Regions from separate parts of the Homo sapiens genome. Here region 1 is linked to region 2. The links come from fine-mapping of genetic effects on plasma protein levels. A gene starts in region 2. The other region holds a variant in brackets. All regions are shown on one strand. Distances are between the middles of the regions.

Region 1 (15,600 bases), 4.0 Mb before region 2:
GTCTGCAGTGATCCAAGATCGTGCCATTGCATTCCAGCCTGGGTGACAGAGCAAGACTCCATCTCAAAATAATAAATAAATAAATAAATAAATAAATAAATAAATAAATAAATGGAAAGGTAGGTAGTTTGGTTACATTTAAACTTTATTTCTTAATTGGATATATAAGTTTGCTATTCCTGCCTCAGCAACTCACCACAAACTTTGTGCCTTAAAACAACATAAACTTATTATCTTGCAGTTATGGAAGTCAGAAATCCAAATTGGGTGTCACTGGGCTAAAATCAAGGTGTCTGCAGGTCTGAACTCCTTTTCGGATGCTTTATAGGAGAATCTGTTTTCTTCCTTTTCCAGTTTCTGAGGGCTGCCCGTGGCCCTTCCCTCATAGACCCCCTTCCATCTTCAAAGCCACCAGGGCCTGATGGTGTCTTTCGCACGTCCACATTCCATCTCTGACTCTTCTGCTTCCCTCTTACACATTTAAGGATGCTTATGATTACACTGTGTCTGCCTGGGTCGTCTAAGCTAATTTCTCTATTTTAAGGTCAGCTGATTAACACTCTCAATTCCATTTGCTTCCTTCATTTCTCTTTGCCATGCAAAGGAATGTTCGCAAGTTCTAGAGGTCAGGATGTAAACATCTTTGCAAGGAGCTATTCTGCCTACCACATGGGATAAAAGAAAAACAATAGCTGAAAACCTCTCTTATAATAAGTGATAACACAGGTGATGAAATTTGGGAAGAAAAATGTTTCATATTCCTTAGAGGATCCAGAAATTTTATAAGTATTTATTCCCCTGAAAGTCCTTCTCTCTAAATGCCATTTATGTAGGAACAGTCTTGTGACTTTTAAATGACCCTATCTATGCTAAAGGGACATAAGAACTCCCAGAGGGGTTTCGACAGGTGTACTGGGTTCAGCAACATTACATTCCTTTTTTGATTTATTACATGAAGGAAATCCCTTCTTCAAGTTATTACATGAAAGAAATTGATACATGTGGATCTCCGTTTATTCAGTACCATGTGGATGTGACAGAGGTTGTTGGTTCAACTAAAAGTAATGATTAGAATAAATAGGAAATATTTGTGTTACCAAACTTTTAAAGAGTGCATGAGATCCCAGGGGTATATTTATTACTTTGTACATTCATGTATTTATCCATAAAAGGATGAAGTAGGGGTTTTCACATACATTTAAGGACCAAACAAGTTGACCTTACAGTCCAGACCAAATATTTAATATTCTGGGCAATTTGTTCTAGGTGGACCAGTGCAGCTACTTCAAAAGAGATTTGTGATGTAGCCACAAAATGCAGGCCTCAGTTGATTGAGTTGTATTAACAGATTGTTTTATTGATTCCTTTCAGAGAGCAATATTAACTGTGCCCATTTCTCAAGCTAATGAATGTTAAGAAAGGCAAGAGAAGGATTGTCTAAACATCAAAGATTGAATTAAATGCTATTCTGAACTTATTTTATCTGGGAGTTTCTGTTTGTCTTCTAGCATTGCTTACTAAACATTTTAAACTATATCATATTTATCTTATTTATCACAGTGTATCAGATACCAATGCAACCTTTAATCATTTGTATATTTCTTCAAAAGTGTACTGACACTGTATCAGCTATAGTTGACATGCAAGATGAACATTTTCCAGTTTACTATATTAAAAGGATATATTTACTAAAATGCTATTTTTGATTAATCTTGCTATTACTCTCTGTATGTATACAGAATGGTAGTTTTATGACATTTTTACCATATGCTAAATCGTGATGGATAGAAGATAAACCTGTCTGAGAAAGTTTGATTTTTTTATTTTTCATTGAAATAATTTCTGATTTTAGACAGTTGATGTCATTTTGCTATTTTAATAGTTCTATATGACTGTAAAGCTATTTTATGCCATATTTAATATTTTTAAAAGGCGTTAACTTATATGAAATTTTCAGAATTTTTGATACTATTTAAAACATGACTACTCTTAAGTTTATCAACAATTGGGTAATGGGTGATTATTATTTATAGAAAACAATTTTAATACTTCAGTTTTCTTCTTTTGTCTTAGGCTTTAAATATCAGATTATTTTATTTAGTTAAAATACAGCATTTTTCCTTATTTTAAAATTTAGTTGCCTCACTAAAATATATTTTCAAATGTTTTTCTTTTGAAATAACATCCTCTTCCAAAATTTACTTCTGAGTTTATATCATTAAATACTACTAGTATTATTATTCCTACTACTGTTACTACTGTACATCAAATTGGTTAACATATATGTCTGAAAAATGGAAATAGATTAGCTCATTTAGTCCTCCAAAAAACCTGTGAATTTGGTTCTATCATAAATCATATTTTACAGATAAGAAAATAAAAATTCTCACTTCTGATTCGAGAGTCTGCTTTTTTAAAGACTCTGCCACACTGCATTCTCAGTATAACATCTGTAACATGATTTGAGCATGATAAAATTGTTGATGATTTCTTAACATGAATCATAAATTTATAAAAATCTCTGGGAGGAAGTATGCAAAAATTAGAAATATACCTTTTTTTCCCCGATGGGCAAAATATTTATTATGTAATTAGACTACTTGAGCAGTTAAAAGTTAATTCAAAGACTTCTGGAGTTTTGTTACCTCTCATAATTTGGACAGTACTATAATATGTATTTGAAATCATAAATATTCCTTATAATAAAATATATAGCCTACTACCCCTTCCCTACCCAACCTTGAATCAAATTTGGATTAGCGCACTCTCTTAAATTGCTTATTCGCCAACTGATGTAATGTTACTCTGCTCAAACTCATGGTGTTGGCTCGGGAGATTCAGCTCACTAATTAATCCAACACAGTAATTAATTGAGTCACCATGCCAGATGTCAAATCCTTTTTATATCTTTCAAGTCCCCATCTTCAAGTACATTAGCAATATGCCACCTTCTGCAGGAAGCCTTTGCAGACCAGGCATTTAGATGTATATAGAACATTTTAAAAAACACAGAAACACCAAACAAATTAGTTTGACAAAAAGTTGTTCTTGGAATTATATAACACACTGAACATAGAAATAGAGTATCTTTTGTCCACACCTTATTATCTTGGTAGATACTTCATGCTTTAAAAGTTTTATAATAGCAGCAGCAGCATAGTAAATACTTTCATTGGGCCAGATACTGGTCAAAGTGCTTTACATGTTTTATATCATATTTACTTCTTACACAAGTGCAAGAGAAGATAATATTTATCTCCTTTGTTGCAGAGGCGTAAACTGCTACTTTGGGAAGTTAAATAACTAGCCTAAGGTCAACTCAGTCTGATTCCATAACACATGCTCCAGTCTTAGAAATGTTTTCTGTGATGTGGTAATAATAATACTGCCTAGCTTATAGGAATTTTGGACTAAATGAGATAGCATATGTGAGTTATCCACACATTTCAACTACTTTTACTAGTCAGTAATCTGTGGAAGTGAACCCATTGAAATCTTTCAACTTTAAAGCAAAAAGCACTCTTTAAATTAAACAAGTAACACTATAAACCTTGGCGTTAGGGGATTTTTACATGCCTAAATTTGACTGTTTGCCAAGGGCTCTGTCTTAGGATTCTCCAGAGAAACAGAACAACAGGATGTGTACGTATATAGCCAGAGATTTGTTATAAGGAATTGGCTTGTCCAGTTATGACGGCTGGGAAGTACAAAATCTGCAGTACTCAGTCAGATGAGATACCCGGGAGAGCCAGTGGTGCAGATGAAGTTCGATAGCGGTCTTTGGGATATTTCCTCGTCTGCAGGGAGGCCAGTCTTTTTGGTCTATTCGGGCTTTCAGTTGATTGGGTGAGGCCCATTCATATTTTGGAGGGCAGTCTGTTTTACCCAGAGTTCACTGATTTAAATGTTAATTTCATTCAGAAACGCCCTGTGAGTTGGCAATTAAAATGAACCATCACAGGCTCCGAAGGTCTGCACTACCTTGCAAGTTTCAGTTTTTTGAGGTATGACCTTATACCCCTGAAAAAATTGATACCAGTGAGGGAGCCCAGCTTTCTTTCCAGCATCTCACCTCATATCTCAGAAATAACTTATATTAAATACTATCATGGTAGCACAAACTTGGTGTTTTTGAAAGTTTTGCAGTTTTATTCACTGAAAAAAAATCAAAGGACTACTGATGAGGAAGAAATTTTAAAAATCACCTTAAGTTCTGATCAATATCTGGTTTGGATGTGTTTTAGAACATCTATGTTTATATGTTGTACCTTTGAAGATTTTCCCCATATTCTCCCAAGGACAAAGATCCTTGCAATAAACTAAATCTCAGCTGTGCTAGCACGTGGTAGTGCTTAGCAAGTATCAAGCAACAGTGATTACTTGGAAGGTTGGGTGTCTGAAATTTAAATGGCGTTTGCCCTCTCTTGCTTTTAAATATTATCAACTGTTGATAGCTAACTATTCTGATTGGATTCAGCCAACTGCTGGAATCATACAACATACATAGTTAATTAAATAGAAAGCCCCAGATTACTTACAACATAATAGTAAACTCATCGCAACCTGTTAAATTCAACAAATGAAATTTGACAGAGAAATCTCATTTTATTCTGTTCAATCAGAATAAAATGTATTATTTTCCCACAGGGTATTTGTGATACTGAATTTTTTTTAAAAAAATGAAATATACATATAAAGGGCACTATAGATATTTTGTTGACCTAATAATGAAATAATGCATGTATCAAATTGCATCTTAAAAGTTTTAAGATAGTCATCTTTATAGAAATGTGGTTAAGGAAAAAATTAGAAGTTCCTGATCTACCTGCTTATAATTAGAATTATTAATTGCCTCCATTTATCCCTTTGCAGTTTTATCTTTTCCAGTATTCATCTTTTATCTTAATAATTGCTAGTCTTCAAGCTTCATATTGTACATATCCTGTAGCAAATATATCTCTACCTATGTCTCCAGCATTCACCTCTATAGGCAAAGGCTGCTCAGTGGGCACACCTGTGACTTTTCTACCTGAGCACTTTTTTCCAGCGTTAAGAGCAAACTCCTTGCAAGCTGGGAAAGCTGGAAGTGCTGGAGATTTCCTATTCCCAAAGGTTATCCTCAACCAATGATGGACAGAAAGTTGGTGGACTAACACCTCCGCTTCCCTTCCTCTTGGTTAGGATATAAGATGTGTTCTATATTGTCTGTTAGAGTTTGGCAGTGGAATTGAGCTCTGATTGCCTTGATAGTGAACATTTTGTGGACCTCTTCCCTTTCCTGCTTACTTCGCCACAACCTTACTGGAATTTTCTGGGATCAACTTCCCAGTAAACTACTTGTATTTGAATCAGTCTCAGGGTAAGCCTCTGGGGAATCCATACTAAGACAGCCTCTAAGATGTAATAATGAAATAAATTTAAAAGCAATATCCAAATTATTATTGAGATTCTAGAGGACATAGAATTATTTAATCTTTATTATTCAATTTTGGACCTCTACTACTGGTACATAATCGGTATTCAATAACTGCTCTTTAAAATAAAAATCTAATCGAATTGAATTTGCTTATCAGGAACATTCTCACTGACTCCACCCATATTCTCCATCTTTCCCATCTCAATGGCATAATTTATAATTTTGCTGAGGCATGACTTTTTGTTGAGCCTCAGATTTCATTGATGTTGACATTGTGAATGATATCTTCCTTCTTAATATTCATTTTAATCTGGGCTCAGGACTACCATACTTTCCTATTTCTCATATCTCTCTGGGTCTTAGCTCTTTTTAATTTAACTGTGAGTGTTTCCCAAAACACTTCTGGCCTTTCTTCTCTTCTCCCTCTGTTCCCAGTGCCTCAGGGAGCTTATCCACTTGCAAAGCTTCAGCTACTAATTTACAAATGACATTTAAATAAAAAAATCTCTAACCTTGGCTTTTTACCCTTTCTCTAATAGCACATTTCAACTGTTTTGCAAGCTTTCCCATTTAATTCCTCCAACTACACAGTCACAAAGAGAGTTTATTCCTGTCTCCACAGACAGCCTCTCTTTTCCATGACTTCCAGCTTTCAGTCACCTTTAATCCTAGTCCTCTGCCTCTCCTTTCGTACCTCTGCAGGGAGTCCATTCTCTCAATTATCCTGTGTCTTTTCTGCATTTCTACCTCTCCTTCTCACATCTCAAATGCTATTCACACACAGTTACACATACCCATACCTCTCTCCTTTTGCCTGTAACTACTACCATCTCTTTTTCCTTCTATTCAGAGTCAAACATCTTCCAAGACTCTCCATTTCATGTCCAGAAACCAAGCATCATAACTCCTGCTTTCGTAATGATTGTTCTCCTCTTTCTGTCCTGCTACCACTGCTTTAGTCGAAAGCCCCACCGCTTCTCTCTTGATTATTACAATATTCTTCTGTTCTCTCTTGTCATCTTTTTATTTACTCAGACCACAGTATGTCCTGAAAGCAAAACTACAGTAGTCACTTAACTCCTGTGCTTTAAAATCATTCTAAAGGGCACGAGAATACCCCAAGGTTTTGGTAAAGCCTAAAAAAGGCCTTCCTGTTACTCACCTCCCCAGGTGATGCTCACCTCCCCAGTTCTGACCCCTTTTCCACTCTCTTATAGACTTTAGGCATTCTGAACTACATGCAGTGCCCTGAATGTCCATTTTTTTTCCACATCCGTACATTTGGTCATGCTGTTTTATCCTCCTGGAAACCCCTATTCCCCCCTCCCCACCTATCTCTCTTCATCTCACTAAGTCCAATACTTATTTAAAGACTCTGCTCAAAGTCACTTCCAAGGTAGACCTTCTCTGAAGCCTCCTGTCTGGAATAGATAACCACTCTTGGAGTATTTCCCTGGTGCTCTAGGTTTACTAGGATAAGAGCACTGATCACATAACTGTGAGCTCCTGTTTGCTTGTCTATCTCCCCTGCAGACCATATGCTTATTATCTATTTTTTATCTTTCTATCCTTCCCACTTAGAACAATGTCTAGCTTATACTAAGAGCTCAATGAATAACATTGAATGAATCAGCACATT[A/T]ATTTTTTCCTTTCACTTTTCTCCATATCAGGAACAGCTGCACACCCCTCCTTATTCAAGACCCTGCATCCTTCCTGAGGCTTTACATCCATGTCTGTTTCGTCTGTGATCTTGCTTCATCTGCCTAACTCAGCAGAGCAATTACCACAGGAAATGCTATCTTGTACCTGTTTTATTTGTTTATAGACTTGCACTTTTATTTTAGTCTCGTTTGAGAGGAAACTTCAGTAGGACAAGATAACTATGTCTATTTCTTCAGTTTTTATCTCATAAGGAGATATGCCCATGATGGTTTCTTGAGAAAAGTTGACTAATTTCGGTGTAAGATTTGCAACCCTTGGATGCAGCTAGGAGGATGAGGTGTTGCGCCTAGTGAGGCAATTATGATTTGTTTACAACAGACTCAGTTTTAGATCCCTCACTATGACATGGGTGAAGGCCAAGAAGGTGTTCTGCTCTACCATGCTTTCTGTGAAGTCTCATCCAGCCTCACACGTTCCAGTGACAAACCATCTGGGAAATTCCATCTGTCTCTGCTTGGAAACTGAGGTGGCAGTCGCCCACTGTGAGCAATTTTCTATTAACTTCTTGGATAAGATCAGTCAGATTTATACTGAATTGATGGGAACCGTAAGAGCAAGATTGTTCCAAGAGAAGACAAATGTACTGATTCCTCTAATTGGGCTTAAGCCAGTTTCATTCACAGACGCCCTTAGGTTCTAGTAGTGCAAGGACTTATAACCTTTTTAATTGTACCCTGTTCCTCTTGGGAAACATTGGTGAAATTCATTATTGATGGAGGTTGTAGATTTGTCCCTTAGGGAGGGCAAGATCCTGGCTTCTCTTATACTCTATCTGCTATGTGGAGAATTAATGGAAACTGAGTGGACAGAAAAGCTGCTCAAAGAAGACTTGAAGGCAAGAAATGTAATGCAGCAGAGCCTTGGAAAGTGATGCGTTGGTTTGGTTTCTAGAATTAGGGTAGGGTTTTTGTTGTTTTATTGATTTTTATTTTTATTTATTTTTTTTTTGATGGAGGGGGATTACTCAGGGAAAGAGGAGAAAGAAGTTTGTGTGGAGGCCTCAGTAATCAAAGGCCTGCTATTGAATGTGAGTCAGAAAGGAAGAAATTAAACACCGAAGAATTATTTCACAATTGAAATATGTAGAAGCCAGAGAGGTCAATTGCATATTAATCTGAAGGGATTTGCTGTGTTATAATGCAGATATAGTTATGATGTTGGCAGTGGATGAAAATACATTGTCATATGGCACAATGGTATTGAAATGAAAACCTGAATTTGTGCCCTTCCTGATAATTTTTACTTGCCTCCAAAATAATACCTTTTGTGTATAGCTAGCCTGTTAACCTCAATCTCATCCTGACTTACTTTTTCTCCTGATGGTGAAGTCTTTCCAGGTTCTTTACATTTGGACTTGGATTTGAAAGGTGGAAACACAATTCCTTGCTATACATAGACAATTTTATTTATGGACCTAACTTACTCTCCTCTGCCTGAAATTTTAATACATTTTGGCCTTTGGTTTATATGGCTAAACCTATTTACCCTTAGTTAGGCCAAGTTTGAACTTTTAAAAAGAATTATTTTTACAAGATTATTCATTGTTCCCTTTTCCCAGAACTCCAAGGAGAACTTTTGTTGAAGATGATCTTTTCAGTTATTAGGACGATTAGTGCTATTAATTTAATTAATTTCTGAAAGGAGGAATTGTTTATGTCATCATAAGATGATCAAAGCTGATCCACTCTATGTGTGTAAAGTTGAGACAAATGAGTCACATAACCTTTTCCCACAGAGGATCGGTGTGAAGGATGAAGAATCACTATTGATTTATAGCTCCAGATACTGTTTGTGGGAGTTGTGATTGTTCCCACACATAGGGATCCTTACATGAATTTTCTTAATGCAGATTTCATTGCTACTGTCATTTCTTCGTATTTGCCAAAAACAGAATCATGAAGGCCTAAGGTGGAAGTGGGTGGATATATAGCATCCCTGCCTCTCTAGGGAAATCTATCACCATCTTGACTAGTGAGGAAGTGGTTTGTAAAGCATAACTATTGTTTTTGTAACACAAATTCTAAAATATCAATCTTGAAATGTAGTTTTCCCTGGAGGGGAAGGTAGAAGTAACAAAGCACTGTGAGGAAGAGTTGTTCATGGAGTTGACCAAACTGTCCTCTGTTATGTGCTGATAGGTCTGGCATGCCTTTTAAATTCTTTCTATTTGATGTTTTTGAGGAATTGTCATTCTATACTGATTTCAAAACAATTAGTTTGGCAGGATATGCTTACATGGTTGTAACAAATATTGTGCCAGCATTATGAGGACTTAGCATCAATCTCAGCTTGACATGACAATTAATACATTCAGTAACTTGGAGATGATAACAGAGAGAATGGAGATAGGTACCAGTTTGTACTCCTTCAGTTTGGTCTTAAAAATCAAAATTACTTAGGGATAATGCTTTGTCAAACTCTGATAACATATTGGACTCTGGTTTTAATCTAATTTTCAATAAATATTCCCAGGATGGGATTCACCAAGTTTCATAATTTAACTGTAGCTCTCAGGTGGCATTGACAACCTTTATTATCATATAAGGTTTTCCTAGCATTGGCAAGTTTGTGACTCTTTCCAAGCCACTGCTATAAAGCTCTGTGTTGATGCTGTGTGGTGGTCCAGGGGCAAGTATTCTTGGGTAAATTTCTTTTTTTTTTTTTTTTTTTTTTGAGACGGAGTCTGGCTCTGTCGCCCAGGCTGGAGTGCAATGGTGCGATCTCATCTCACTGCAAGCTCCACCTCCCGGGTTCATGCCATTCTCCTGCCTCAGCTTCCTGAGTAGCTGGGACCACAGGTGCACGCCACCACACCTGGCTAATTTTTTGTATTTTTAGTAGAGATGGGGTTTCACCGTGTTAGCCAGGATGGTCTCGATCTCCTGACCTTGTGATCGCCTGCCTTGGCCTCCCAAAGTGCTGGGATTACAGGCGTGAGCCACCACACCTAGCCTCTTGCATAAATTTCTAATAAGAGAATAATAAAGTAATATTTATTACATACTTTGGAAATTTGAGAAATTATTTGAGAAACTCTCTTGGAGATTAACATATTTTTGCCTGTTAATTTAAATATTGAATTTAAAGTTGTTCTTTTTTTTTGAGACAGAGTTTTGCTGTTGTTCCCCAGGCTGGAGTGCAGTGGCGTGATCTCAGTTCACCACAACCTCCGCCTCCCAGGTTCAAGCAACTCTCCTGCCTCAGCCTCTCGAGTAGCTGGGATTACAGGCATGTATCACTATGCCTGGCTAATTTTATATTTTTAGTAGAGACAGGATTTCTCCATGTTGGTCAGGCTGGTCTCGAAGAACTCCCGACCTCAGGTGATCTGCGTGCCTTGGCCTCCCAAAATGCTGGGATTACAGGCATGAGCCACCGTGCCCAGCCTAAAGTTGTTCTTTATTATTCATTGACTCTTACTTCAATTTTCTCATAAAACCCCTTGTCCCAGCTTGACAAAACTGTGGCTTCTTGATTCTAATAATTTCAGCGTCTTCTGTGCCATTTTGTATCACTTTCTATTTTTTAATGGCAGGAAACCAGACTAAAGCATAGAGTTATGTAGGTTGGTCTGTGGTTTTCTTCTCATACACTTTAGTTCCTTTTCTGATGGTTAAAAATAATGAGCACAACTTGTCGCAGGCATAATGTCTCCCACAAGGCTTCAATCAAGGGGACAGACAGGTCTTGGTGTCATCTGAAGGCTCAGCTAGTGGAGGATCTGCTTACATGCTCACTCAAATGACTCTTGATTCAGTGCTTGGCCTAGTGGGCCTCTACTTAAGGCCACTCACAATATGGCAGCTGGCATCCCTCTGAGCAAGCAGATGAGAGCATAGGACAGGGAGCCCAAGACAAAAGCCACAGTGCTTTGGTAACTTAATCATGGGAGTGGCATCCTATCACTTTTGCTGAATTCTAGGGAAGGGAATTGTGCAGAGCTTGAAACCAGAAGGCTGGGATGACTGGGGGCCAACTCAGAGGCTGTCTGCCACAGAAGGTAATTTGCATAAGTAGTTAACCTGACCTGTGGATAGGGAAGGACTTTCAAATACCAAGAGCCATGGGAGCAATCACAAAAGAAAATTCAGTGAACTTGAATACAGACAACAAAACTGTATGCTATACAGCATCATAACCAAAATCAAAGATTAATAAGTAAAAGACATTTGTGAAAATGAGGTATATTTTATTATTATTCATTAAAATATTTATGGTTTCTCACATCTGTGATCAGTGGCTTCCTGATTAATTTATTTAGATATTAATTTTGCAATAAAGACAAATTAAAATATACAAAACGTGATTTGTACAAAAATTTGGTGGGAATTGGGGATCAAAAGTAGTTTGCTGAGTGTTTCTTCTCCTTTGGTAATTTTGAGAAATATACACCCACACACTGTAAAGATCAAAAGTGGGAGAGAAAGTATGGGAAAGAGCCCGTGATGGGGTCAGAACAGCCTGATTCTAGTCCTGTTATTACTCAAAGTGGATGTGCTATCTTGGGTAATCATACATGCTCTTAGTTTCCTCTTTTATAAAATAGGGGTTATTATACCAGCCCTACAACATAGAATTGTAAAGTTATATAAAATTATACGCATTTAGTCACTTTGAAAAACATACAGATTGTTAAACAAACCTGGATTCCTTTTATTATGCCTGTGAATAGAAAGTAAATGATTCATTCCTTTAATTCCCCAAGCAGTGCATCTAGTCTTTTCTCTTCTGTTCTCTCCCTAAACATACTTTAAAAAGCAGGTTTTGTTGTCATACGAATATAGCTTCATATACGTGTACTCACACGTATCCATACACACACATGCTTACTGATTAGCTGGCATGAATATTCTGAGAACTCATAGCCTAGATAAGTAAACGGTATGGACTTAGTGCATTTATCATCTAAGCAGACAGTCACCATAGAGGAAAAACACATATTTTTAGGAAGAGAAAGAAAGGTTAAGTGGTCAAACTGCCTTTTGAATGATCTTGGCTTCTTTGAGTTTTCTTTTTGTAGGGAGTTATTCTTCAGAAAGCATTTCTCAGGTGTGTGATTGGGGATTTCAGACAATTGGAAAAGTAATTTACCCTGTCTGATTCACTTTTGAGTTAGGTTTGTATTTTAAAATGTTAACTCAATTCTTTCATTATTTATGGCATTTTAGAGCTCCATACAGAATGGAGTGAATAAGGCAGTCATAATGCAGACAGTGATGTACTGTGAAATATGAAGAAATGGGGACAGAGTTTTGGAAGAGCAGAGGCACGTCACGTGCCTTAAGTTTTAGCTTTTATTAAGAAGTCAAACAAATACCATTTGTACCTCATTACCCTATGTGTAATAGTGTAAGCATTACCCCGCAGACAGGAGCAGTAAGAGTCCCTCAGGTTCTGATCCTAATCTCGGATGCGGCATTACCACCTCTCCTCTGAAAGCCACTGCTGCCCAGGCACACGCAGCATATTAGTGCATTTAAAGGTACCCAATTATATCCATGTGTGCATCTGAGATAGGCATCAGGACCCAAGTACATGTTAAATTCAGCTCCTATAGGAAAAAAAAAAATAGCACTTGCCTTTATTAAAGAAGTACAGAAGTGGTGGAAAGAAAATTTGTCCTTTATCTGAATATTTTCAGCAAGAAACCTAGGCAGTGTTATTCTTGGTGCATTTCTTCAAAACTTTGTGAAAATGACAACTCTTCAAAGGAGGCAGACATGTGCACAAGTGTCCCCCCGCCTCTGCTGATATTCCGGGAGGAGAAGGGGTGAGGGAGGAAGAGTGCGTGATGAAAGTCAAACAGTGGTCGGCTCCATTACTTCATTAATCAAGTGGAGGCATTCTGAAAAATGTTTCTCTTTGGTTGCAGCCATCTATTTTTTGGTGTTAATCTGCGCCCTGTGGCAGGGTTTTGTGAAAGGAAACAATGAGCCGTTGTATCACCCCCCTCCCTTTCCCCAATTGTTGTAGCCCCTGTCAGAAGGCTCCGAGGATGATGCAGGTCTGTATCAGCCTGATAAGGGAAAAGAGGATTCAAAATGGCTTTGGAGAGACTCCGTGGGAGTGGAGTGTGCTGTTTTGGACTAGATGAGCTAGGGAATATGGCAGAGGCCCTTAATGGGATCCTAAGGCTTCAGTGCCAAACCTTCTGCTGCTTCTTGAAGATTTTCTAATGAAATATTTTAATGGTAAAATTCTGTGACTGTCATAGGGGCATAGGTTCAAGATGCTGTTTTAAGTCATTTGCTCCATAATCTGTGATTAGTCAATCCAGGTCAAAAAGACAGAAAAAGAAAAAAAATATCCAAACTCAAGAAACCTGTCAGAGTATGTATTAGGTCACTTTTATTCTGTTGACAATGAGTGTTCAATTCACTGTCATCATGAGCTCTGTACAAGTGGCCTGTACATTTTATATACTGTGGGTTCCTATTTTATGGCTAGATGAAATATGAAGCTATCTTTCATAATGCTGATTCCATTTTGGCAGGCCTTTGGATCCACATATGGTTCAGTTAAGCTGTTTTGGAGCCTAATGTACCTTTGTTATTTATTGAGATTTTTGAAAGGGGAATAAGTGGGCTATTTTTACTCTGCATTTAAAAAATACACATTAAATGTTTCAAACATAATTCATACAGCTAAGAAAATTCTAGTGAGCTTTAGAAACGGATCTGCTATTCCTAGGACAGCTAAAATAAAATCATTCCTACCCATGAAGGAAAAAATAAAAAGACAGCTAAAGCTCCAGCAAAATAGAACCACTATCTTACAGCACACGGTAATAATATATACGCAGAGCAATTAGTAAACATGGTCAAGAAAAGTGGGCATCAAGTCAATACACTGTAAAGTTTAAGTATCTTTAAGCTTATAGATGATGCTGAGATTTTTTTTTTAACTATTCCTCCTACTATTGGCCTGGTGTCTTATGAATAAACATAGAGGCACAAAAAATTAAAAACAGTGGTTGTCAGATGAGTGAATGATAGGGAAATACCTCACATACCATGGATAGTCCAGTGCTTATCTAGAAAAACTTAGCTGCTTGGAGGTGATGTTTGCTCCCCACTGCTGAGACCTGATTGGTAGAGGGCAACTCCACCTTCAGATTTAACGTTCTTGTTTTGGTGAGTTTAACTCAGACTCTTAACTATTGGTTAAAATAATGTCTGTGTGAAAATACAAAGAAAGATAGAAGAAAAGTGACACATCCTGTCATATTGGAAGACAACTTTTTGTTTCTAAAAAAGCTTTGATAGGATAGATCTATTTGTATGTATTTGTATATTAATGCTCCTACTTTGTAAAGAGCTTTCAGATTTTTATATGGCCATTTATGTATTTTTATATGGTCATTTATTTTCACTTGAAGTTAATCATTAAGAAGGCTTTTTAGAATGGACCCAAGCAAAACAGTTGGCTATTGTCTGCATGAAAGAGTAGGGATGGTCCCTTTTGGACATGTCACCCTAACTAAATCTCCAGCCATATTGTGTGCCTTCCTATAATGGTTTATTTTGCTCAAGCTTCAGCTATCTTTTATTAGTTTCCTTTATAGTGGTATGTTATTTTTATCATCTTTACAGTCATATGAAAGGGTAGTGGAATAATCATTTCCCTTATTTCATAACTATTCTAACAGTTTTCCTCTGCTGAATCTAGTAGCAAGTAAATGACTATTAAAATGTATTTCTTTCTTTAATGTTTTGTACATACAGCCATAGAAGTCTTGAAGGAAAACTTGACTCAGTATTTATTTAGCATGTTCCATAAGTCAGGAACTCTTCTAAAATGTGGGATACAAAAATCTGAATGCTTCCCACACAGAATTGCTTCATGTAAGAGTATTTAAATAGAACTGAATTCTGTCCATAGCCTTTATGTATATTTTTAAGTAAACCTAACAAACAAAAAGTAGTATTCACATGTGTGCAGGCACACACACATACATGCACATGCATGCTCATATAGAGTAAACAGTTGATTTTTAAGCCAACAAATAAGATAAAAATGAATACATTTGTATGTTTTTCCTATTCTTTATACTCTTAACTTACACAAATAAAATAATCTTATGAAGTAAAGCACACCTCTATTATTGAAAGAAATACACAGATTTAGTCAATATTTTTCTTGTCATAGTTTAGATATTATAAATATTAAGATTGTTTCTAACATTATTTTTCTTATAATTTCATTATTTTACATCATGGAAAAACTGAATTGCAAAATTATCATGAAGATACTTTAAGTACTCTAATAGGTAATATAGAACAAGTGTAGAGCATTTCATCTGTAGGATGAAAAAGTTGTTTACAATTATTGACCACATAGAGCGTTATAAAAAGACCCAATTTAATTAAAGTGGCAAATATGGTGAGGAAACCAAAAAAAAAAAAAAGTGAGAAATGAAAAAAATGCATGCAGTGAAAAGTGCTTCCATATTATTTGATCTT
Region 2 (14,422 bases):
AGCCAAGACTAGATTTTAAATTTAAATATAAAGGATCAGAGGACATAGTAAGGCTGGGTCTGGAAGTGACAAAACAAACTGGAGGCTGAAACAAACTGCTGGGCTTTCATGAATAGCCAGAAAACAAGAAGAAGGAAATCCTTTCTTCTCTCCTAATGGAAGAAATTAATTGGAGTCCAGCGGTCAAGGGAGAAGCATAGTTTGCAGAGACCTTGTTCTGGCCTCTTATAGCTGAATATAGACAAGGGGGTTTATGTTATTTTTATGCCAGTTTTCTTGTCTCCAGAATAGTAATAAAAGTAAGACCAATTGTTTATTTTATAATAGGATGACAAGCATTTCTTTAATTAATTTTATTTTTTTCTCAGAAGCATTAAAATATAAGGTCTAATTGGCTAAATATTGCTCAATATATATTTGTGCATTTTGCATTGCCTCATTAAGTGCAAAAACCTTTATAGACTCTCATCCTGCTTACTCCTGACAACTTTGGTACTTTACCAAATTAATATAATTCTATTCTCAAAGAATTAGTAAATCATATAGCTCCTGAGTTTTTTCCAGGAACTTTTCCAGATAAGAAGATTAATCAATGGCTTCTTCTTTGCTACTAAATAAACTACCATTTTTCAATTAGAATATAAGAAATTTAAACACCATTAATGGATTAAAATGCTGGGTTCTTTAATAACTTTGCATTCTGAATGAATAATATATTACTTTTAAGAGGATCATGAAGTTTCACTAAATAAAAGACCTTATATTTTAAATGTGTATTTTTGAATGTGAAAAATAAAAAATAAAACAATCTTGTATAAGCACCACAATCTATAAGTTTCTACAAAAAAACCATTACTGATTCTAACATTAAATGGGTAAACTTGGAAATACTGCTAACTGTACCATAAAAATGAGAAAAGTTAAAATTAATGAAATATATTTTAAATTATACTATATGCTATTTCTACTTAAAAATTGTTTTGTATTGTTTCCATTTTTCAGGAAGCTACTAAAGTGCTGTTCCGAAGAATAGGCTGAAACAAAAATATAAGAATTATTAGCTACTTTGTTGGGCAATAGGCAAAAGTCTATAGCATTTTCATGAAAATATACTAAAAATATTTTTATGATATATAAAATGTACTAATTAGCTTTAAACACTAAAATCAGATTTCTTCAAAATATAAATTTGTTTTGATTCTTTATATTTATATGTTTTTATTTCATTTCAATAAACTTCCAGAAATTTGTCATTTGGAAGTAGATATGACACCTCTAAGTTATTGTACCAACAAATCATAGAATCCTTTAAATAATGGAAAGAGCTTGTCTAGTTCCGACTTAAGCTCTTTACATCAGATTGGAAGCATTTTAAGTATTCTTTTTAATACTTGAGGGGGGGGGTTCTTATTTTCTCTATCCATTTACAAGGTTTTGATTTCCAATAATCTAAGCCATTCTAGTTTCTAAGGATTTTGGAGAGACGAGATTGTCTTCACACAATCTGAGATGACAATCTCATCTCAGATTTTTCACACTGAGTTCCTGTCTTTCAGATTCACAGTAATCCCAGGAATTCTAGACTGTCCTGTATTTCTGGATCTGCCCAACTCTGGCCAATATTGGGAAAAGTTTTCTTGTCCTTGGAATGAACTTTTGGAACAAGTCCAAACTCCTTCTCTGCCTACCCCTCCTTCCCACTCAAAACTGCCACTACTAAGAGCAGGACTCCCCTCAACCCCGGGCATGAGTTGAGGGTTGAGGGGTTCCCTTAACTGGTGGATGCTTATTCACTGTTTACTGGATGAATGAAGTATAAAGTGTGGGAAGTCAACAACAGAACAGAACTTATTTTCAAGAAGATAAATTAGAGAATGCAAAAAAGCTACAGACTAAGGTAGCTAAGTTAACCGAACTCTCTAACAGTATTGAAAATAGCAATTCTTTACTCAGAAAATTCTAAAGGGAATACTTAATTTGACAGAACTCCTAATAAAGACATTGTAGCCAGATCCAGAGCCTTCCAGCAAGTGACACTCAGCAAACATTTGGGACAGCTGAGAGAATTCAACAAAGCCCATACCGTTGTCTCTTGTATAACATCTCCTAGTACATTCACCTCAGATCATTGTTAGTCTTACTTAGCAGAAAATGTATAAACACTTACCAGGTAGTAAAATCAAATATCTTGGTATAAATGTGGCATTTCATTCACTTGAGCAGTATCTGTTGGGTGTTCTAGTAAGTAGGAAGGCTACAAGAAATAAGATGCTATGCCTTCCCTCGAAGAGTTTTCAGGATATTTGGGGAAAGAATGGAAACAGACCATTTCAATACAACATGATCACTGTCTCAGGGAGAGAGAGACAGAGAAAGACAGAGAGATAGAGACAGAGACAGAGAGGGAGGGGGAGAGAGAGATAGATAGAGAGAGAGAGAAAGCATGAGGTTGCTAGCAATATGGAGGCCTTAAGCCTTGTTCAGGAGGGCTACCTAGAAGAGCAGTGGAAGAAAACTGGGAGAGGACCACTGAAGGCCTAGGGGCTACAGAAAAAATTCAAATGAACAGCTGGAATGGAAATAGTCACAATTTTAAGGGAATTGCAGGTAAGAGGTCCCTGACAAGGTAGTCTTCAAAGTATACATGAAAGCCCCTTCATGAGGAACATTTGCCATGTCCAGAGAGCATTGATACTTCATTGTACAGCACCAGGTAACAGAGCACTTTTATACTCCCCTCAGTTCCAACCCTGGTGGGGTGAAAAACCTCTGTTCCTGGGATAGGGAGGGGGAAAGAGACCCAACATGGGCCATTTCACGCTGAGACTTAAAAATCAGTCTTCCTAAGGCAAATCTAGTTTACTGTTCATTCCGTGATACTTCCTTTCTGTTGGAAAACTAAATTCCAAAAACTGCAATTCCAGCATCTATGGAACAAATTCCTACATTTGGGTTCTGGAAGAGATACAAAAATATTCTTCACACCAGAACATTGTAAAAGCCATAAAATTGTCCACCATCTGTATTCTTTTCTTACCTAAAGGTTTAATTCAGCCCACTGGAGTTTTTTGTCAAGATTTTTTCTGTCAGTTTTTAATAAGGAAATTTTCTAATACAAGTTATATGGCAGTAAAAGGAATTTCTAAAAATTGCTTCTTAGCCACACAGACTTTGTTAAAAAGTTCCTGTTTTAACTGCTTTAGGCTTCTGGCTGTCTGCTTTTTAAGAACATTCTAGAATTATCATAATAATTCCTTATTCCAGATAAATTACAATTTAATTACTACTTTTAAAAATGCTTGAATTATTGGAATCCATGGGCAATACATCTTCACATGTCCCTTATTCATATGCTAAGCAAGTTTTATTTTTGCTTTTTTTTTGCATTTAAATAATATTTCTCTGAACATTCTGTCTCAGAAATTGATGTTTAAATTCTTAAAAATAATTTGTATTGTAAGAAGTGGCTATCTAGCTCTTGAACAAGTCATAAAAATCCTTTGATGTGTGAATATTCTTCTACCTAAGACCTGAAATGTTGGCGAAGTAAATATGTTGTTCCAATTTTGGTCAAAGTAAGAAACAGAGAATAAAAAGTTAATAAGAATAGCTTCTTGTATTTCTCATAGTAAGTGAAATGTTTATATCTTGTACTACTGTCTCTACTCATTCCTAAATTCCATCACCTTGTGATCATTGCAATGACTTCTAGATGGTCCATCTGTTTTTACCTTTTATCCATTTTATCCCCAAAAGTGCTATTTAAAATATCCCTAGCACTAATAATAACAATAATCAATAATAAAGTAAAGGTTTATCACATGTTCACTACATGCCAGACACTATGCTGTGTGTTCTACATGGACCCTTTCCTTACAGCAATCCTATGAGGATAACCTTATTCCCTTCTCCAAATGAGGAAACTTGAAATGTTGAAGGGTTAGGTTAAATTCCCAAGTTCACAGAGCTACTAATGGTAAAGCTGGGATTCAAACACAGACAATTTAACTCCAGAGCCCAAATTCCAACATTTAATTGCTTCCCACTTTTCCTCAAGCATGGGCAAGTGCTTCATTGGGAAGAGTTTTTAATCCAAATTCCTGTTCAAATTCTTGGTTTCTACTTTACCACTTCTATGCCCTCAGGCAAGTTCTTAGTTTCCATTATTCTCAGTTTCTTCAACTGTAAAATGTGGAAAGTGTGACATCTGAAGACTGATGGTATCATATATATGACATGTAACACAGTGCCTAACAGGCGGTAAAATGATAGCCACTCTTGTTTTTATTTCCATAATGTGGCCTATATCATGTCAATCCCTGGCCCAGTAAACCATTAGGCTTCTTATTACACTGGAACAGTGCCTGGCATGTAATAAGCACCATGTGAGTGCTAATTATTAGAATTATTGGCTGGGCACTGGGCCACCTAGAACAAAGACAATTTCCCAGCTTCACTTGCAGTGAGACTGATCAATTTCTGTGCAGTGGGTTACAAAAACAGACATTATCTCGTGGCATATTCTAGAAACTGACCTTAAAACATAGCTATTATGCATCCCTTTGCCTTTTCTTCATCCCTTTCTGTTTTTCCAGCTACATGGAGCAAGATGGCTCCTGAGACCTGGAGGATAAAGGCCAGTGCCTTTTATTGCTCCATAACTTGTGTTAGAAAATCTCCTTACTAAAAATCTACAGAAAAATCTTGACAAAAAAAAAATTCCAGTGGATTGAATTAAAACTTTAGGTAAGAAAAGACTAAGATGGTGGACAATTTTATGGCTTTTACAATGTCCTTGTGTGAAGAATATTTTTATACCTCTTCCAGAACCCAGAGAGCTCAGCTGAAAGGAGTTTGGGTTCCTGACATTGTGGTGCCCTATACCAGCCCTTGCTCCTTTAGGGTTTCATTGTTATTTGGTGGTTATCCTAAATCTCCTGCTTTCATCAGATGTCTGAGATGGCAAAATTTGGAAGGATCAAGAGAACAGAGAGTTAATCCTTCCTAATGGGAAAGGTGGACAATGCCAAGGTTAAAATACCACATGCATCTTTGAGTTACTACTATACCCTCCCGAATGGAAATGCTTCAACTTTAATCTGAGGCTAGGCGCAGTGGCTCACGCCTGTAATCCCAGCACTCTGGGAGGCCAAGGCAGGCGGATCACGAGGTCAGGAGATCGAGACTATCCTGGCTAACACAGTGAAATCCTGTCTCTACTAAAAATACAAAAAAATTAGCCAGGCATGGTGGCGGGCACCTGTAGTCTCAGCTAGTCGGGAGGCTGAGGCAGGAGAATGGTGTGAACCCAGGAGGCGGAGCTTGCAGTGAGCTGAGATCTCGCCACTGCACTCCAGCCTGGGTGACAGAGCGAGACACATCTCAAAAAAAAAAACCCAAAAAACTTTAATCTGAATCCATTATGTGTTGGGTTGGGTTGGGGAACCTACCAAAACAGTGGGAGAGTCTTGCCCTTTTTCTAAGATCATCAGTGGGCATTTTCAGCTTCCCCATTATGGTAGTAGCTGCAAGGAGTGTTCAGTCTCCAGTGAAAGAAATATTAAGATTTATTCCCCCAATTTCCCCTCCCCAGAGAGTAGCTACAGACACACTGTGTAAGACCAAATAGGAAAAGTCTGCCACAGGGGACACAGTAGGTACTTGAATACTTGTGGGCAGTCTAACCAGCTACAAACCTCTTGTTGCCGTACTTGCAAGTCCTAATACAGTACTGTAGTTATTATAATTCCATCATTCTGAAATTAGAAAGATGGTCATGGAGAAACTGTTCTAAGAACGCCATTCACCCATGAATGTGACTTTATTAGAGGTTTTTTTTTTAGGTTAAGGACTATGTATTCTTTCAATTTCTCTAAAGTGCTTAGCACACACTCTGCCCATGGTAAGTGTTAAATAAACTTTCTGATAAACCAATGATTGGGTAGCATGATGAAACTTTTCCTATCCTGCTTTTTGAGATTAAGAAATCTTTTAAAAATATTACAGAAACTGCACTTTATCCTGACTTACAGCCTTAATGTTTGAAGTAGCAGTGTATAAAATTCACACCCAGTTATAGACTGAGTAATTATAGTTGCTATGGTAATGGGCTCTGTGCCTATGAGCAAAAAAAAAAAATTCCTTTTGTGCAAGATATTTATGACTGTGCCTGGCTACATGGCAATAGTATTTTCCTTTGGTTTTTCATTACAGTAACTTATGCATTTAGGCAGATGATCCTTTATATATGTAAACGCTATAAATTCTTAGGAAGAAAATAAATTTATTAAGTTTTTCACATCAAAAATTTCTAGTATGATTATGAGTTCAATTTTCAAGTGAAAGTAATCCTTAAAGGATTTAATTTCAAATAAGAACTACGTACAAAATATAGATTTAAATTAATTTTCACTGTATGAAATGTACAGTATACATAGACCAACTCCTTTAACAAGAATTTCTGGTATGTCTTAAAGGGCATGGGTGGTTAGAGGGAGATCCCCAAACAAACAATTCAAAATTAAGAGTTTAAAAAGCAACAATCAAGACACATATCCTCCTAAGTGAATTTGAATTAGACACTGGAAAATTTAAAAAGGTCAGTTACTATGAAGAAGGTGTAACAATATTTATATTAATCAGACAGCAAAGTAACAAACTGACTTAGAGGAAGGAAAATAGTAAAATACAAAAGACTAAGTTAGCAGATCATTTTGATATCCAGATGTGCTGAAATGATGGACACTGAGAAGAAAGAATAGACAAAACTTGGCAACAGATCTTGGTATGAAATAAATATCCCATGAGTAGTACATAAAAGCCTGGAGAGAGAGGGGAAGGATTGTAAGTGTCATAGTTCTGACAGCTGCTCTTTCATCCTATGCCTTTAAAACAAAGGGAACAAAGAAGGGAACAAAGAAGGTAGAAGCGGGGGTATGGAGGGTTGACTTCTGGCTGTCCCTCCCTGTTTCCCTTTGTTAATATATTGCTAGTAGACATGTCTACTTCTGGTTGCTGATGACATAAAATTCACCTCTATTTCTTGGAAGCACTATTCCATGTTGTGAGCTAAAGGGGATTGTACTGATCTTGAAGATAACAAATCTGCCTGCTTCAAAGGTTTCACCGATTTTATTGCTGTGTTTCCAACACATTTCCACATATGGTATGATATTTAATTTGCAAAATAAATCCGTAAAGCAGGAATTACTAACCTAATTTTGCAGATGAGAAAACTGAGGCTTAAAGTTGTTCAAGGTCAAAGTCACGATGTCCATCATGCTGTAGCTCAATGAATGAGTCTCACATTGTTTCATGTTGTTTTATTTCTACTTTCTCAATCCATGTACAAGATAGATTTACAAACTACTGTTTTATGTTGGTTGTATGAATTTCAATACATTTACTGTTAGAAATAACAAAAGGTCTTAGACTGCCAGATGCTGTTCCCATCAACTCTACTTAATTCATAATATAGCTGAACTCTGTCATAAATCTAATAACGATGTGGACATTAGCCAGAAGTATGATGTGGCTGAACCTCACCACTGAACACAAAATGAGAATTCACCTCATCTTTTCATTTGAATTTATTTCTACTAAAATATATGTATTATTTTTCTTGATTTCTAACCAGGCCCCTTCTGAAGAAAACTGGTTAACTCTAAATTGTTACTAAATTTTGAATCTTCCTGTATTTAGCAATAAAAGTTACTGCTAATTGTAATAACAATTATGAGGAAAAATTTATTTAAATGCTTCATAGAAAGTTAATTTTCATTTAATAGAAAAGAAATAAAAAATCTGCTTCAGACTGTTTGATTTCTCTATTAGGCAATTGACCCTAACTAGTATATGGTGATTTTGAGTATTAAAAAAGAAGTTATAATTTTCCAGAATATTAATGTTTATTATTTTGAAAGCAAGTAAAATTCTCCAGTAGGAAGATTAATAAAACAATTCATTAAAATTCTCATCAGAAAATCCTATGCTTTCAAATGTATCTGCTCAAAGATGTCACTCTATGTGCGGCAAAGCTTTGTTTTACTTGATCAAGAAATGAATGTGACTTTATGATCTTGTATTCAACTGTGAACAGCTGCTCATTAATAAAAAGCCATTAAAGTCCAAGTCAGAACAGCAGGTCTAAAATTGTGTTTGAGGGAAAAAAAACCCACCCTTTGATGAAAAGCCAGGGAACTGGGTTGGGAAAGATCTGGAAGCAGAGGGCTGTGTTTGCAGTCTGCTCCTACCTCCTGGGCCAGGTCAGGTGACAAGGCCAGAGTTAGCCCCAGCTGGAGAAGTCAGAACAAAGCCTATGTAGGCTTTGAAAGGGGAGAGTAAGTGGTGGGCTGGAGGTTGATAGTGTGAATAAATCAAGCTGGTAATTGGGCAGAGGCTGATCAGAAGCGTTAAAGTGAGCAAAATGGTTTGGACACAGAGCAGACAGAATTTACTATATTCCATTGAGTAAAAGAAATTCATATGCCAGGTTCTATCCCTTATGTTCCTCCCATTTGACATCTGGTGGTTTCCTACCCCCGTCCCACACAAGCTTTGGGGAGAGGACAGGACTTAAAGTTCCCTGTTCCCAAGAGGTGGTCCCTAAACCCAATCCCAAATTATTGACTTGTGATCCCAATTATGGGCTTACTATTTAACAAGTAAAGATGATTTTAAAATATTATTTTATAGGTATTACTAAAGTAAATTTTAAATTTGCAGTCTTTAGCGAGCTTTGTTTTCTGTTTTGCTATTGTGTTGGGAAACAAGTACTCAGTAACTAGCTGTTTCTGGAAAAGTATATACATTTCGTTTTGTTTCATTTGGAAATGGCAAATTTAATAAAGAAAACTGAAGAATCAGGAAAAAGAAGAAAATATCCTTGGGCATAATAAATTGTCTAAAGCAATCAACTCTTTAAGAAAAAAAATTTAAACACGTTTATATCCGAATATAGGTTATTTTGGATTTTTTTTTTTTTTTTTTTTGAGTCAGGGTCCTGCTCTGTCTCCCAGGCTGGAGTGCAGGGCCCAATCATGGCTCACTGTAGTCTCGACCTCCCAGGCTCAGGTGATTCTTCCCACCTCAGCCTTCTGAGTAGCTGGGACTACAGGCATGCGCCACCAAACCTGGCTAATTTTTAAATTATTTGTAGAAACGGAGTTTCGCCCGTTGCCTGGGCTGGTCTTAAATTCCTGGGCTCAAGCGTTCCTCCTGCCTCGGCCTCCCAAAGTGCTGAGATTACAGGCATGAGTTACCGTGCCCAGCTAGATAACTCGATTTTTTAAATCCAAAAAAAATTTAGAAATTTTATATTGAAATTTAGGCATTAGAATTCTAGAGATTAAAGTTAGAGCAGGTGTTTAAGGGACTGAAAGGGGTTGCATGGCCTTTGGGAAATGCAATTACCGGAAATGATACTGTAGTAATGCAATAGTAATGCAGTAGTAGTAGTAGCTGCAGCAACAACTGTTATCTATGAATGTTTGCTATGTGCCAGGCTCTGTGCTAAGAGAGCTTTGCAAGCATTACTACTGCATGAAGTAGGCACTATTATGGCCATTTTACTGATGAGGAAATTGAGGTGAACAGATTAAATAATTTTACCCAACTTTACACAGAACCATTCCAGAGCACGAGCCATAAACACATCTTTCCCGTCTTGGAAATTAAATTATTAATAAAAAACGTGGTGCAAATTGGAAAGAGGACGGTTGTGGTAGATTATCACAAAGTTAAGTGGGTAGGTGGTTGCTGGGTCAGGGTGGGAGAACAAAGGCAGCTGTAATAAAAAAAAAAATTAAAGGCATATAAAGAAAAAGGCTTGTTGAGAACAATTTGCATAAACTGATTTTGGCCTTAGACCCTATTCACTTCTCCCTCACCAGTCACTTTGCAACTGTGGAGCATAGTATTCTGAGGGTCCCCTGCACATAACAACCCCTTTCATAGCATACAAGATAAAAAGAAGAATCAGGCTGCAAAGAGAGAAGCACTGAAGGAAAGAACATCTCAGGTTGAAAGAAGGGCAAGTCCAGGGTGCATGTGAGGAACAAATGCATGGACACGGTGAAGTGCCACTTCTTCATTTCTAGTTCAACACAATTCAATTAAAAATTACTGGGAGGAGGCTACGTCTTGAATTAAACTCAGCATTCCACATCTTTGAGGTGGCGGAATGACTGAGGGGAGGGGGTCTGTCTAGCCACATCCAAATCTTCCTGAGACAGAGGGAGATCCCTCATTTGTTGCAGTGTATTTTCCTTGGTCGCATCTGACACAGGGGTTCTGTGGGTTGAACAGAAAGGGACTTTGCTGGAGGGGAGGCACTCTGCATAGAAGGAAAGTAGGGACATCTGGCAGAAGCAGGCGCTCCGAGAATAAACAGTCAAAGCAGCTCGCAATAGTCCCAAAAAGCTACCCCTCACCGAACCTGGCGTGCCTGTCGCCGCTTGCCCCGCTCCCAGGGCTCATTGGCTCCCAGTCTCGACGTCAGACCCGTAGCCTCTCACCTATTGGGCCAGCCAGGACCTGAGGCGGAGTGCAGAAGCGAGGGCCTGGAGACAGCCGAGAGCCGCCTTCAAGGAGGGCTGGGGGCGGGGCTAGAGGAGGGGCTGGGGGCGGGTTTCCCGATGAAGGGGCGGCCATGGCAGCTGCGCAGAGGCAACGCAGGCTGCTACGGAGCGCGCGCCCGGCTTTGAATGAGCGGGGCTGGGAGTGAGCGGGCGGAGCGCGAGCTCGAGGAAGAGACAGGCAGCGCGCGTGAGCGCGCCTTGTGTGCGCGCGCGGCCCGCGGCAGCTCGGAGCCTCCGCCGGGCGGGCGGGGAGGGGGAGGGGCAGGTGAGTGTGTGCGGTTCGCGCGTGCCTGGGAGGGGCTTTCCTCTCCCTACCCCCATCCCGACCCCAGCCCTAGCCTCTGGGGCATTGTCTGCCCTTCGCCGTCGGCCCTCCGCCTAGCCGCGCACTTCCCGCCCTCCCACCTTCCTTTCGCCCTTCCACCAGACCTCCCTCGACGCCCGACAGCTGCTCTGGGTACTGTTTCCGGGTCAGGGTGACCTCTGGGGTGAGGAAACTGCGACTGGGAGCGGGACCCAGGCGTGCAGCATTCGCCATGCTCCGCTCACGCGTGGGAGACTGGGCTGTGGGGTACCGGCCCGGAAAGCACGCAGCCTCCAAAGCCGCCTTCCTCAGGGAAATTTGCGTGACCTTACTGCCCTCCGTCTACAGGCCTTGTACCTCTCCAGGCCGATTTTTCCACAATTTAAATCTCAGTTCACCTGGTATCCAGCTCCAGCAACTTAGAGCGTTTCACGTCACGCCGGGCGCCAGGCGTCGGCTTGTATAACCTGAAAACGCTCCTGTTTTTCTCATCTGTGCAGTGGGTATGATTTTTTTTTCATCAACAAATTTCACGTGGGTAATCTGAAATGAAACCACTTAAGTTATGAAACTCTTTCCTTTTGAGTTATTCTGGAGACCTTACTCCGCCTTCGGAACCGCCCCAGTGGTGTCACATACTTGAGGGCCTGACTCTCGGTTGCCAGACATGGCACAGAATGTTCGATTTTACTACCAGCTCTCACACTCCGCTTCTGTTTCCCCTTCTCTTACGGGCCGCTGCTCAAACCTTTATTTATCAAATTTAAGTGAGTTCAGGTAAATTTTATTTTGGGAGCTTTGTAATATTTTCTAACCCACTTCAGAGAGTTATAGTTTGAGGATATTCTGGACTGTACTAGATCATATGGTTTTCAAATTTTGGTATGAAAAGATTCGTAAATAGAGTTTTAGAAATACAGCACCTGTTTAGTATGTACCGAACATAGATTTTGGCTTTGCTTGTTTTGTGAATTGTGATGTATTGAGGCTACTTGAAAGGACCTCTAGCAGTTTACCGAGAATTTCAACAAGAAAAGATATAATACATTTGATCTATCAGTTTCTAATGTAGCATTCTTTTTTTAATTGTATTTTTTTTCCGTTAACATGGCAGAGCTCTCATTCTTGATTTCCTAGAGTTGTCATTTCTTCAAAAAGCCTTAATGAGGATACATTGCCTCATAGTTTTGAATCTCATTCTGATATACCTCAAATTTTTGTCTTTGTAATTTTTAAGGAAATTTAATGTTAAGATTAGATTATATTAACATTGTTCCGTTCTAGAAAGTGTTTTAAAGCAACTAAAGTGTAAAGTAGCGTAAGATACTTATCAAATTGGTGATCTAGAGGGCATTTCAAAAATCGCACTGAGGCAATGTGCACACAATTAAAAGGTTTCTTAAGTAGGATATGATGTAGGGAGAGCCTTGGGCTTTCGGGTCAGTCCCTTTAAATCCTGGGTAAGTGAATCTAAGTCTGTCAACCTCATCTATTAAACGGGAGTAGTGAAAAACCTACCTCTTTTGGTTGTCCTTAGGATTCCAGTGAGGTGATCGAACATTGTCTTGAGCGTTCAAGTGCTCAAGGAATGTTAGTTTCCTTCCATTCAACAAATATTTGAGTACCTACTATGTGCCCGGCTTTGACTGAGACCTATAAATACCAGAATGAGCAAGACTGATGGACGTCCTGCCTCCTTAGTTTCTTGCATTCCTCAGGGATAAGTTTATGGGCAAGCTCATGACAACTGGGAGTGAACGCAGAGTTTCCCCATGCGGAGTTGGTAGTATTTCCCAGCTTCCAAATCCAAAGTAGCGACTGAAACATAGTAGGTGCTAATATATATTCATTTAGATGAATAGGGACATTAAGTAAATACAGGTCTCAAAGGATATTCCTGCCTGCCAGTCAGTGTGATTGATAAAATCAAAGTGTGGCTTGATCGCATTTTCCCTATTTTAGTGCAACTGGTTGGAAAATTTATCTTGGAAGTGGTAGTATCACTGAATTATTAAGAATGTTCCTTGTTCATGAGATGTTCTTGGCTTTTGAATTAAATATACCTAGGTTTGAATGGAGTCACTGGATGTGCTTACTCTGTGTTTAATTCAATGAAACAAGGACAATAGTATCTATGTCATAAGATGGCTTTTTGAGTTGTGTGTTAACATTTTGATAGTGCATGGTTCATAGTAGACAGTCAATGAGTATCAGTTCTCCTCTTTTATTAATCACAAAAGGAAGTTTTCTGCAGAATGAGGATATTCTTGATTGCTAGGGAGAGAATTCTATTCTGTAATCACTAAAAGACCCAGTTTCTATTTTTTATTGGGAAAAAAAAAACAACCTTTAAATTTTACCTCCAGTTAGCATTGAAGTTATTCAAGTTGGCAAATATTTATAAAACAATGACACTAACAATATTTGGAAAGGTGATGGCTGTGGTTACTAGGGCAGTTTATGAAATTTATTCTCAACTTTTATTCATGTATATCCTAAAACTGACAGTCCCAAATGGTAAATATCATTTTTCTTCACAACATACTGATAGAGTATCTCCTTGATTCTATTTCCTTCCCTGCCAAGTACCACACGTTCTGTAGTCTCTTTTCTGGCTCTTTTTTCTTATAATTTTTCAGAAAATTTAGGCTAATTTTCATTTGAGAAAGTTTTCTTTTGATTGAGAGTTTTGTTCTTGACAAATCAGCTTTAAATGAAGTGATTGTTCACCATCATAATTTTTCAGATCATTCTACTCATAATGAAGCAATCAAACTTTTTTTTCAAGTCTTACTTTGCAAATGGTAACTGAAGGTACCAAATGAATAAAATACTCTAGAGAAGGGTTGTACAGGGCAAAGTAAGGTATAGAAATAACCATAATACAAAATAAAAAATGTTGTTTCTTGGGAAGAGTAAAATACTAGAATTAAGAAGACTTTACAGTACTCCAGCAAGAGGTAGTAAAGGCTTATGCTAGATAGATTACAGTGGAAATAGGAAAGAATATGGGCAGTACTGGGAAATTGAATAGGGTCTTTTTGGCAATTAGGTGTAAGGAGAAAGAAAGGAGGAGTCAGCATTGTTGCATGATTTGAACTTGAGTAAACCACTGGTTGGGATGTTTTTGACAGAAGTATTTAAATAACTCGAGTACAATTTTTAATATTCTGGTTCTTTTTTTTTTTTTTTTTTTTTTTTTTTTTTTAACAGTCACTGTTCTTTTCATCCTGTCAATTAGTAGGCCACTTCCAGGTTAGGCATTCAGTAAATCTTTCAGCTTATATGGAGAGACAGCCTCCATATGTACAAAACTACTTGAGTATTGCTAAGGTAACATTTTAGAGCCCTGTCTTTGTACCTTAATAGCCTACAAGCCCCTTCTGACCCTAGAAATAGAAAAGACTAGTGTGCGTTTTGCCTTTCCTTAGAAGAAATTGGCAATGATGCCTTTACAGAGCAATCAAGATCAGATACTATGAGAGTTAAGTATGTTTTTCTGGCTTTCTGATTTTGTTTTGTTCTTATTTTTTATGTGTTT

Direction of the effects. Positions count from the first base shown, and alleles are read on the strand shown. Strength reflects both the effect of a copy and how common the allele is.
In carriers of allele A in region 1, the plasma level of the protein whose gene starts at base 11,096 in region 2 tends to be higher than with T alone (weak association).

What was found. PIP is the posterior inclusion probability: the model's chance that the variant is causal. The UK Biobank Pharma Proteomics Project read protein levels with antibody pairs (Olink). The fine-mapping took linkage between variants from a reference panel, not from the people measured, so its PIPs are less certain.
Region 1: its variant is fine-mapped to the plasma level of the EBAG9 protein (UK Biobank, PIP 0.92).

What each region holds. Positions count from the first base shown.
Region 1 is chr8:105,562,245-105,577,844 of GRCh38, forward strand. All of the region lies in intron 4 of ZFPM2 (zinc finger protein, FOG family member 2), which reads left to right. Among named protein-coding and RNA genes, the nearest start is that of ZFPM2, 250 kb to the left of the region's middle. The variant A/T (reference allele first, on the strand shown) is at 7,056.
Region 2 is chr8:109,529,078-109,543,499 of GRCh38, forward strand. It overlaps EBAG9 (estrogen receptor binding site associated antigen 9), which reads left to right and starts at 11,096. Exons shown (of 7, transcript NM_004215.5): 1 at 11,096-11,384. It overlaps PKHD1L1 (PKHD1 like 1), which reads left to right. Exons shown (of 78, transcript NM_177531.6): 78 at 1,003-8,130. The coding sequence ends at 1,013. It overlaps EBAG9UORF, which reads left to right and starts at 10,649. Exons shown (of 1, transcript NM_001436381.1): 1 at 10,649-10,723. The coding sequence starts at 10,649. The coding sequence ends at 10,723. RefSeq lists a silencer at 10,495-11,044 and an enhancer at 11,105-11,464.